Regions from separate parts of the Homo sapiens genome. Here region 1 is linked to region 2. The links come from fine-mapping of genetic effects on gene expression. A gene starts in region 2. The other region holds a variant in brackets. All regions are shown on one strand. Distances are between the middles of the regions.

The links. PIP is the estimated chance that this variant, and not a neighbour inherited with it, causes the effect.
Region 1: its variant is fine-mapped to the expression of RPH3A in whole blood (INTERVAL, PIP above 0.99).

Annotation. Positions count from the first base shown.
Region 1 is chr12:112,884,014-112,889,399 of GRCh38, reverse strand. RPH3A (rabphilin 3A) reads right to left here. Exons shown (of 22, transcript NM_001143854.2): 17 at 1,477-1,603. Among named protein-coding and RNA genes, the nearest start is that of OAS1, 20 kb to the left of the region's middle. The variant G/A (reference allele first, on the strand shown) is at 2,122.
Region 2 is chr12:112,789,043-112,794,428 of GRCh38, reverse strand. RPH3A (rabphilin 3A) reads right to left here and starts at 2,681. Exons shown (of 22, transcript NM_001143854.2): 1 at 2,417-2,681; 2 at 2,166-2,286. RefSeq lists an enhancer at 2,048-2,589.

The DNA of each region.
Region 1 (5,386 bases), 95 kb before region 2:
CCTCTGGGTGTCCTGCACCTCCATGTCTCTGGGGCTGGCTGCATTCACCATAGCAAGATGGGAAGACCCAAAGGCTGATGACACAGGCAAGGGCCTGGCCATTGTCCTGGCCAACTGGACTCACGGAGTTGGAGAAGGAAGAGAAGCCTGAAGACCCAGCTGTCACCAGGCAAAAGCCCAGAAGAAGGGCCTCATTCCTAGGGATGTCTTTAAGGATTTATTCTGAGCCTGGAATTCAGTGGAAATCCTTCCTTGAAATTTTCCTTGTTTGGTCTTGTTCCTTTGCCTGAACTATAAAACTATGGCATGGCATGCAGACATTCCATCCTCAGGCTGGCCATCTGGTGGGAAGATGCTCCTGCACCCCATAGCTTCCCTGTGGAGAGCAGGCAGGCTGCCCAGAGAGACCAGGGGTGCTGGTGTTGTAGGAGAGCTGGACTCTGGCCAGTGCCCAGAGACCTTGGAGACTTGCTACCCTTTCTGGGCCCAAGTTGGCCCATACGTAAGGCAAGGCAGCCTGAATTATCTCTAAAAATATAGATTGTTGAGTCCTACCCTACCCCACTAAAACAGAATCTCCAGGGGAGACCCCCACAAATCTTAGCTTGTAAAGCTCTGGTTTTAGAATCCCCCGGTTAATTCTGAGGTGCAACCCCATTGCAGAACCTCACTTTGATCCTTGCTATTTTCTCAAAGAGCAAGAATCACATCTGACAACAACAATGACAGTTCTAATACTTCATATGTATTATCACATTCAATCCTTAAAAGATCCTATGAGGTTAGTACTACAGTATCCCATTTTACAGATGAGACATCTGAGGCCCAGAGAAATTAAATAATTTGCCTCAGGTTATACCCTAAGTGGCAGAGCCAGGATTCACACCCGAGAGTCTGGCTGCAGAGCCCATACTCTTAAACTCTAGGCTATGCTGTCTGCTGTTTATCTACATGGTGCTTTCTGACTTCATGACTGACAGGTGGGTAAGGCAGCAATATTTCCTACACTAACAACTGTTAATTTATGAGTGCTTACTATGCATTAAGTTCTATTTTGATTATGTTATTTTTTAAAACACAACCCTCCCAAGAGGCAGGTACTGTTATAACACCCACATTACAGACAAGAACACCGAGGCTCGGAGTGGTTCAGCCCCTTGGCCAAGGCCATGGAGCAGCAAGTGGCAGAGCTGGCTCTGAACCCAGGAAGCCCATGCTGCCCCTGCCATGCTGTCCATCCAGTTTGGCCAAGAAGAACTCATGTTCGAAGTGATGCTGACACAGGGTTTGTGAAAGGCAGAGAGAGAATGCAGCCTGAGGTTGTGAGCTGGAATCTTGACTCTCCTCTGCAGACCTGCTGCAGTGCCTCTGCTACCCAATACCCCGTGGATCTATTTCCCCCAATTCAGACCCAGAGGAAGGCAGCTCCCCCAATCTCCCCTCCTCCCATCAGATCCTCAGGGTAAAGTCACTCACAGGAATCACTCGCTCCAGGCAGATGTTGAAATTCTTCCTCTGGTTGGGCTTCAGTTTCTTGAGGGAGAATCTGGTCTCACCAATAAATTCATTGTGGCCAAATTTGTCCTCATCACAGACGGAGATCCTGCCACCAACACAAGGGGGTAGAGAGAGAAACAGGAACAAATATTAAGACACCACTGTGTGCCAAGAGTTGCAGCTGATACTGGTAAGGAATGTGTAATGTATGTGGAAATAATATGATTTCCTGTTTATTTATCACTGGACCAAGTACCTTTAACTTCTTCTTTATTGCAGTATAACTGACATGCAGTAAAGCACATAAATTTAGTTTATAGCTTGATGAACCCTTGCATTTGTATATACCCATGTAATTCCCACCCAGGTCAAGATATAAAACATTCCAGAGACTGAAAGATCCTCAGGATCCTTTCTAGTCACTGCCTGTCTCAAAGATAGCCACTCTTTTGCCTCTGGCCACATGAAGTCATTTGTCTGGTTTTTGACCTTCATATAAATGGAATCATATAATATAGACTCTTTTATGTTGGCTTCTCTTGCTCAAGATTATGTCTGTGAGATGCATCCATGCACAGTATAACTTATCCTTTTTATTGCTGCATAGTATTCCACTGTGTAAAT[G/A]TACCATAATAATTCTGCTGTTGATACAGGTTGTTTCTAGTTTTGAGTTATTATGAATAACGCTGCTATGGAATATTTATGTTCATGTCTTTCGGATATACATGTACATATTTCTATTGAGTATTTTCCTAGGAGTAGGGTTGCTGGCCATGGACTAGGCATAAGTTTAGCTTCAGTAGAAACTTCAAAACAGTTTTCCAAGGCAGTTCCACCAATTATGTCCCTACCAGCAGTTTATAAAGGTTCTGGTCACTCTTTATTCTCTTTGACTTCAATTATGTCAGTCTCTAATTTTAGCCTTTCTGGATGGGTCATAGTATGTCACTAGTTTTAATTTACATTTCCCTGATGATTAAAACAGTTGAGCCCCTTCTCATATACTTTATGGCCATTTGAGCATCCTCTTTTGCAAAGTCAGGCTAGGAACTTTTCTCATTTAATTTTTCCTATTTCAAAACAACTGCATTTACCATTTAGAGAAGATACTGGGGCCCAGAAAGATTAAATAATTTTTCCCTAATAAGAGGTAGAACCAGGGTTTGAATCCAGGTCTCCCTGAATCCTATAGTAATATATTGCCTTTTGTTATCTACCTTACACAGCATTGAGTAACAGTGGCACAAAAAAGGCAGGTCATAAGAAATGTCCCTTAGGACAAGAGTCTCCAACCCTCAGGCCATGGACCAGTACCAGTCTGTGGCCTGTTAGGAACCTGGCTGCACAGGAGGAGGTGAGCAGCAGGTGAGCAAGCATTACCACTTCAGCTCCGCCTCCTGTCAGATCAGTGGCAGCATTAGATTCTTACAGAAGCATAAACCCTATTGTGAACTGCACATGTGAGGGATCTAGTTTGCACGCTCCTTATGAAAATCTAATGCCTGATGATCCAAGGTGGAACAGTTTCATCCTGTAACCATCCTTCTCCCTACCCCAGTTCATGGAAAAACTGTCTTCCACAAAACTGTTCCCTGGTGCCAGAAAGATTGGGAACTGCTGCCATAGGAGACCAAAAGGACCAGTCACGGCATGATAATTCATCCTGACAAACACTAAGAGAGGAAAGGGCTTATTGTCCTGCAAGGCATGGGAGGCATTCTTGGGGGACAGGAAGGGACTGTAAAAGTACCGCACTCCTTGGCCACCAACATTAGTTGAACAAATGTTCAAAGTCCTGGAGGGCCCAAACACCCTCATAGCTGAGTCCTGCACTGTCTAACACTGGAGAAAAAACTTGTCTCTACTGAGCTGGTTGGGGTGTGAACAATATCATCCTTCTTCAGGGCAACGCATCTCCAAAGACATAAGAGAATAATCACTGTTTTTGACCCTGTAGCACCACTTATAGGAATTTACCTCAAATATATCATAAGGCAAGTACAAAAATATTTAACTACAATGGGTCCAAAAAATAGTTAGAAGGAATAAATGAGATCTAATATTTGATAGCACAACAGGGTGACTATAGTCCATAATAATTTAATTGTACATTTAAAAATAGTGAAAAGAGTATAATTTGATTGTTTATAACACAGGGATAAATGCTTGAGGTGATTAAAAAAGACATTTATTTTAACCCATTTAAAAAACTCATGATGCGATTATTACACACTGTATACCTGTATCAAATTATCCTATATACCTCATGAATATTAATATATACACCTACTATGTACCCTCAAAAAATTAGAAATATATTTAACTACAAAGATGTTTGTCACAATATTGTTTATAACTATGAAAAAAGCAGAAATAACAAATACTGTACAATGGAGGAACTGCTTAAGAAAATTATGAAATAACCACAAAATGTAATAGTGTACATTAGAGAAAGTGTTGTACTTAGTCATCAGGGAAATTTGGAACCACAACGCAACACCAGTGCACACCTACCAGAATGGCCAAAATGAAAAAGTGTTGATGAGGCTGTGAAGCAACTGGAACTCCCATGCATGGCTGATAGGAGTGCACACTGGCACAGCCACTATGGAAAACTGGCAGTTTCTATTAAAGCTGGACGTACCCATATCTTATGGCTCAATCATTACACTTCTAGGTATATATGCAACAGAAATAAGTGCACCTGTGCACCTAGAAACAGCTACTAGAATGTTCCTAGCAGCACTATTTGTAATAGCCCCAAACTAGAAACCACCCAAATACATCAACAGTAAACTGGATAAATAAAACTGCATTATATTCCTGCAATAAAATACTAAATAGCAACAAGAATGATCTACAACTACACACAACTTAGATGAATACACATGTAAAATGTTAAATGAAAGAATATAGATACAAAAGAGCCACACAATAAAATTTCATTTATATAAAGTACAAAAACAGACAAAATTAACTTGTCCTGTAAGATGTTAGGATATTGAATACCCCAGGGGAGCATTCAATAAGAAGGGGCCACAGTGGGGGTCTTCTGCAGTCTAGGAATGTTCCATTCCTTAAGCCCAGTATGTTCACTATTGTGAAAATTCATCAATCTGTGCATTTATATGTGCATTTTGCTAAATGAATGTTATGCCGCAATAAAAATATTTACTTAGAATAATGTTGCAGCCAATTGGGAAAGCAGTTTGCATGTCTTGTAAAATTGTTTTGGAAAACATCACATATCCCATGATCCAGTAATAATTCTCTTTGGTTTCTGTCCTAAGGAAACACTCATATGTACACAAGGAAGAATAAAGTTGCTCATTGCAACTTTGTTTGTAATAGAAAAAAGCTGAAAACAATTTAAATGTCCACCCAAAGGGAATTGGCTAAATAAACTGGTAAACATTTACACAAAAATTTAAAACATGCCAAACAATGCTGTACATTGTTTATAGATACATAATTATGAAGTATAAGACATACTTGAGAATGATACCCAAAGAATTCAGGATGGTGTCTAGCTCTTGGGAGAGAAGGAAGAGGACAGGACAGGGTGGGAGATAGAATATACAAAAGGAGCTTCAACTTGCATCGGGGGTGCTTTATTTCTTAAAAAAGAGCTGACGCAAACACAGCAAAATAGCAAGATTTTTAACAGATCAAGTATCGGGTGGGTTCATGGATGTTTGTTTTAGTATATTCTACACTTTTCTATTCATTTGTAATATTTAAGGATAAGAACATTTAAAAAAATCTGTGATAAATCCATTCTGTGGAATATTCTGAGGCAGTTAAAAATTAGGTAGATTTAAATGTCTTTTCATGGCTGTAATACTGAGATATATTGTTAAGAAAAAAAGGCAAGTTCCATACATATATA
Region 2 (5,386 bases):
CCCCAATCACCCCAAACAGGGCCTCTCCCCGACACAGGATAAATTCTCAAGCACAGTGCTAACCCTTCCTAGAAATGTGGGCATGTGCAGTCACTCACACTCACACACATACCTATCTCATAGTCAGAGAACCCCAGAACTTGAAGGGGACTTAGGGCCACCCAGACAGACTGCCCCATTGCATAGATGGGGAAGCTGAGGCCCAGAAAGGGGAGACAGCTGGGACTGGAACCCAGGTCTCCTGACCCAAGTCCAAGGCTCTTTCCAGAAGCTTCTCTTTCCCTTTCCCTGGTGCACCACAATGCACCACTTCAAATGTGATGGGGGAGGAGGGAGGGCGGCCTCTTGGATCTTGGCCATCCCTAAGGAAGTGACCCAGTGGAGAGATATTTGGGAAGTGTCCACATCTGGACACCCAAGTATTAGCTATCCCAGCTGGGCTGGCCTGTACTGCATGGCTAAACCAGTTGTTAAAAATATTAAAATAAAATATAAATATTAAAATTAAATGGGGATGCTGCCCTGAGGCCTCGTGGCTCTCTTGATAGCCCCCTAAGATCCCCCCAAACCTCTCCATAATCCAGCAATTAAAAGATTAACACTCAGTACAGCAGGGGCCCCCTAAGATGCCCTATTCCAGGACCCTAGCCATTCTGATCGATTAGTACCAAATTTCAATACTTTAAATATCACCCATAGCCAGATATGTGGTTCTTTTTTTGAACAAAATTTCCACACATTCATTATTCACACTCAAGTCTTCCCAGTGAGGAATCTAAGGCAACTTCCTCCTCAAGGTCACCCAGCAAGAGAAGCTAGGAAGAGAAGTTAGGGATTTTGAGAACCAAATCTTTGACACTAACCACCAGACAACCCTCCTCTTCTGCCTCATATGTCCTGCCTGAGCAGGCACATGCTGTGGGATTTCAGCATCTCTTCTTAGCTATGGGGCTAGAGAAAAAAAGAATGAGTGAACCCTGCTTATATTTCAGGCTTGCCAATCTCTGACTGTTGTTTTATTCCTCCCACCTCCAAGAGCAAGAATCTAAAAAGGAAATCCTTGGGGGTGCAGAACACTGAGGTGGCCCCTGAGATAATAGCAAAAATGCTAAAAACAAGGGCATTCATTTCCAGAAAAGTAGATGTAATCAAAGCAGAAAGCAAAGTGAAATCCCCTTTTGATGGGTAGCAGATTAGCATCAAAAGCATTTCAAAATTAAATGTGAGCTTTTGGATTCAATTTCAAGGTACTTCCACTTCCCACTCACTAACAGGTTGGTGCAGCCTTTCCCCATCAGGATCTTGGAAAAAGAAACTAGTGCAGGGGGACGGTCTACCCTGGAACAAAACTGAAGCTGAAGCCTGGAATCTTTCCCCAGAATTTGAACAAGCTTTGTTCCCCTCCTTCCTTCTGAGATGAACTCAAGGATAGAATCTCCCAAGCTAGTGCCAGGACGCTCCCCCATACAATCACTTACAGGTTACGCCACCTGTGAAAATAAAACATCATCTCCTCTGCAGGCAGTGGCTGCTCCCTTCTGGCCAGCCTGACCACTCATCCCAGGCATAGTGTGGCCCTTTCCTGGCTCCCAGGTCTTCCATCTCAGGAAAGCGTGAACAGCCAACCTCGCAAAAATCACCACAATTAAATTACTCAGCTGTTCCTAGAAGAGGGTACAATCTAAGCTCTGTCCTGTGCAAATCTTACCCAGTGTGCCCAGGCAAAAGTTACCCTTCCAGTCTCAGGTGACCCCCTCCCCTCCAGGGATAAGCACTCACTTGCTAAGTCAGAGTACCCAGAGTCCCTCCATGCTAGACTAGCCAGCCCCACGAAGGGTTAACTCTCTCAGAGAACTGCCGGCTACTTTCACCAGCTTCTGCTGCAAAGGAGAGGGCAAATTGGGCAGAAGCCACAATCTTGATCGCATTGCCTACAACATGAGCACATTTTACCCCCTCCCTGGGCACTAAGCCAAAATCTCATTTGGCTTTGGGATGCCGCTTAGGTGATAAAACACTGCAGGATGTAGGCAAATAAGCATAGTCGTTCCTCGATACCCTTCTCCTCCCAACTACCCTTTACCCCACCAGCTCATGAACACACATCACAATTGGGATTCCAACACCCCTAGCCCATCTGCACAACCCGGGAGAATATCACTTACCGCGACGCTGGAGGCTTGCAGGGGGAATGGGTGAGCCAAATTCTTGCCAACTCCTCCCTTCCCTGCCGGGTAGAAAGACGCTAAGTCCCAATGACTTGGTTTAAAAGCTCAGCGGAGGTGCCTGAAAGAAAATTGTTCATTTGACTCTCCTACTCTTCCCAAAATAAAATCAAAGCACCAGTGCACACACGTAGACACACAGACACATCAACTACCCCTAAATCATGCAGGACCAAGACAAAAAGAAATACCACTGCCAGAAGCGGAGAAAACTCGGACCAGCCAGTGAGTCAGTGGACAAGGGACAGTGGCTCCCTCAGACTGTCCTCCACATGGATGAAGGTTTTAGCTCTGTGAGTCTCTCTCTCTCTCTCTCTCTCTCTCTCTCTCTCTCTCCCTTCTCCCTTCCTTTCCAGTCCGCGTAGGCAACTCCGGGCTGCTGGCAGTAGACGAATCAATTGCTTCCCCAGAGCCAGTTTCTGCCGCGGCTGCCACCACTACTGCAAAGCCCTGTGTGAGCAAGGGAAGCGGGGCGGCAGCTTCCCAGTGCAGGGGGAACCAAGCGGGAACCAAGCCTGCCTCCCACCCGTGATTTATGTGTGCGGTGCCTGGAGAAAGAAAGGTGGGAGGCCGGGAGGGGAGGTTGGGCGCACCAGAGATCCCAGCTGGTCGAAACGGCAACCAGGGGATTGGCGGTCAGCACCACGGACAGCGCTAAGATGCCTTGGAGGAGGGGATGGGTGGGAAGCGAACCCCTAGGCAGAGAAGTTAAGTAATTGGATGGTTAAAGCAGAGAAGGGGGGAGTCCGGAGGGGTGGGGGACGGGACTTCTCGACATCACACAGTCTAGTCAGTGACAGCTTACCTACCACACACTTTTTCTAATACTGTCGCTCACTCTCAGAGCAAAGGAACTATAACTTCACAGCCCCTGTCTCCCACACGCCCCCAGTCCTGCATTGCTCCTCTCTGCTCAGACAAGAGCTTGGCACCGGTGTGGGGGGCTCCCTAAGTGGTTTTGCCCCTCAAAGTTTCGCCCAGATGACCTGTCCTCACCCCCATTGCTGCAGATTTTTGACCTGTACCTGGAGTTTCTCAGAATTCAGAGCAGAAAAGCTGAGGCTTAAGAAATGGAAATTTCTAAGGGGCAGGGTGGCTTAGTTGAATAAGCACTTGATGGTTTTCTGGAAGTCAGATCCAGCCCCCTTACAACTCTGGAAAAGTCATTTAATGTTTCCAAGTCCCATCTGTGAAAATGATAACATAATGACCTTATTTTTCCTAAAGATAGGAAGCAAGAGGTTAAAATGCAACAATAAGAATACCCAAGCTGTGAACTGCCATGATTTCATGGTCCATAACCTGTCCTAAAACACAAATGTTTGGACAGAGTGATAAAGGAATTGACAGCCCAGCTAGGATGGCATGTGCCAACCTCACCCTTCAGCAGGTGGTTTGAGTAGAATGAAGGGAAATTTTAGGTCTAAATCAGACCATTGAGCCTTGGCCAAAGAGCCTTCCCCGAAAGATCCAGACTGGCTTTCTGAAGTGAATTCACTATATGGACAATGAAATAAAAGTATCAAAAGGGGAAATATATAAAGATGAATGGATTCCCATGGCTCCCAGTGCTCCATATCTCAAGAGTCCTATTCCTCCTAACTTTGGGAAAGGGCTCAAATTGGAAAAAGGCCAGGAAATCTCAAACAGACCAAGATCTGCTTAGAACTTCTCTGCAAAGTGAAGGAGAACTCTCTCTATTGGAGACTCATATCTAAAGCTTCCCATCCAGATGGCCCAGGGTTAACTACTACATTTGTCACTTACTTCTCCCCATGAGACCCAGGAGTTAAAATGAGAACATTTAGAGCTCATTTAAAAAACAATTTTTTAAAGACAGTGTCTCTGCCAGGCGCGGTGGCTCATGCCTGTAATCCCAGCACTTTGGGAGGCCGAGGCAGGTGGATTACCTAAGGTCAGGAGTTCGAGATCAGCCTGGCCAACATGGTGAAACCCCATCTCTACTAAAAATACAAAAAAATAGCTGGGCATGGTGGTGTGCACCTGTAATCCCAGCTACTCGGGAGGTGGAGGCAGGAGAATCACATGAACCTGGAAGGCAGAGGCTGCAGTGAGCCGAGGTTGCACCATTACACTCCAACCTGGGCAACGAGAGTGAAACTCCATCTCAAAAAAAAAAAGAAAAAGACAGTGTCTCACTCTGTCACCCAAGCTGGAGCGCAGTGGTGCAATCATAGCTCACTGAAACCTTGAACTCCTGGGCTTAAGTGATCCTCCCACCCCAGCCTGTCCAGTAGCTAGGACTCAAGGTGCACACGAATATACCCTGCTAATTTTTTTTTTTTTTTTTTTTTTGCAGAGATGGGTCTCACTATATTGCCCCAGCTGGTCTTGAACTCCTCGCCTCAAATGAACCACCTGCCTCAGTGGTGGTGGTGGTGGTGGTGGTAGTAATTGTCATCATGATGGTAATCATAGTGATGATTATAGTGATGGTGTTGATTGACAATGATTATGCTGATGATGTTGATGGTGATGATTATGGTGGTGGTGGTGGTGGTGGCAATGATGGCTGCTATTGAAAACCTACTATGTGCCAGCTCTTCTGCTAGGAACTTTACATGTATCATCTTCTGAAGTCCTCACCATGACCCTTTCAGGACACTAGTATTATTCCCATCTTGCAAATGAGAAAACTTAGACTCAAGAAATAAAATTCCTTGCTCAAGGCTTCACAGTAAGTTACAGACACAGCATTCAAACTCAGTGTCGTATGATTCCAAAGAACATGCTCCAGGATGTCTCTCAGAGTTCATTTCAAATGCATTCTACAAGTTTGAGGGGAAAATTTTCATCGAATATTTTCTGGGATGATCCTGTGACATAAATTCAGTGTCCTCAATTTACAGATGGAGAAACTCGGGACCAGAGACGAGAATTGACTTGTCCATAATCAAAGAGCTAGGAAGTAGCAGAGTTGAGTATAGAATGCAAGCCTTTCAGATGCCAGGACCTGTGGTCTATTGCCTAGGGCAGTCCCAGGCACATAGGAAACCCTCAATAAACAATATCGTTTGTTTTATTTGAGACAGAGTCTTGCTCTGTCACACAGGCTGGAGTGCAGTGGTGAGATCTCGCCTAACCGCAACCTCCACCTCCTGGATTCAAGACGTTCTCATGCCTCAACCATGCAAATAGCT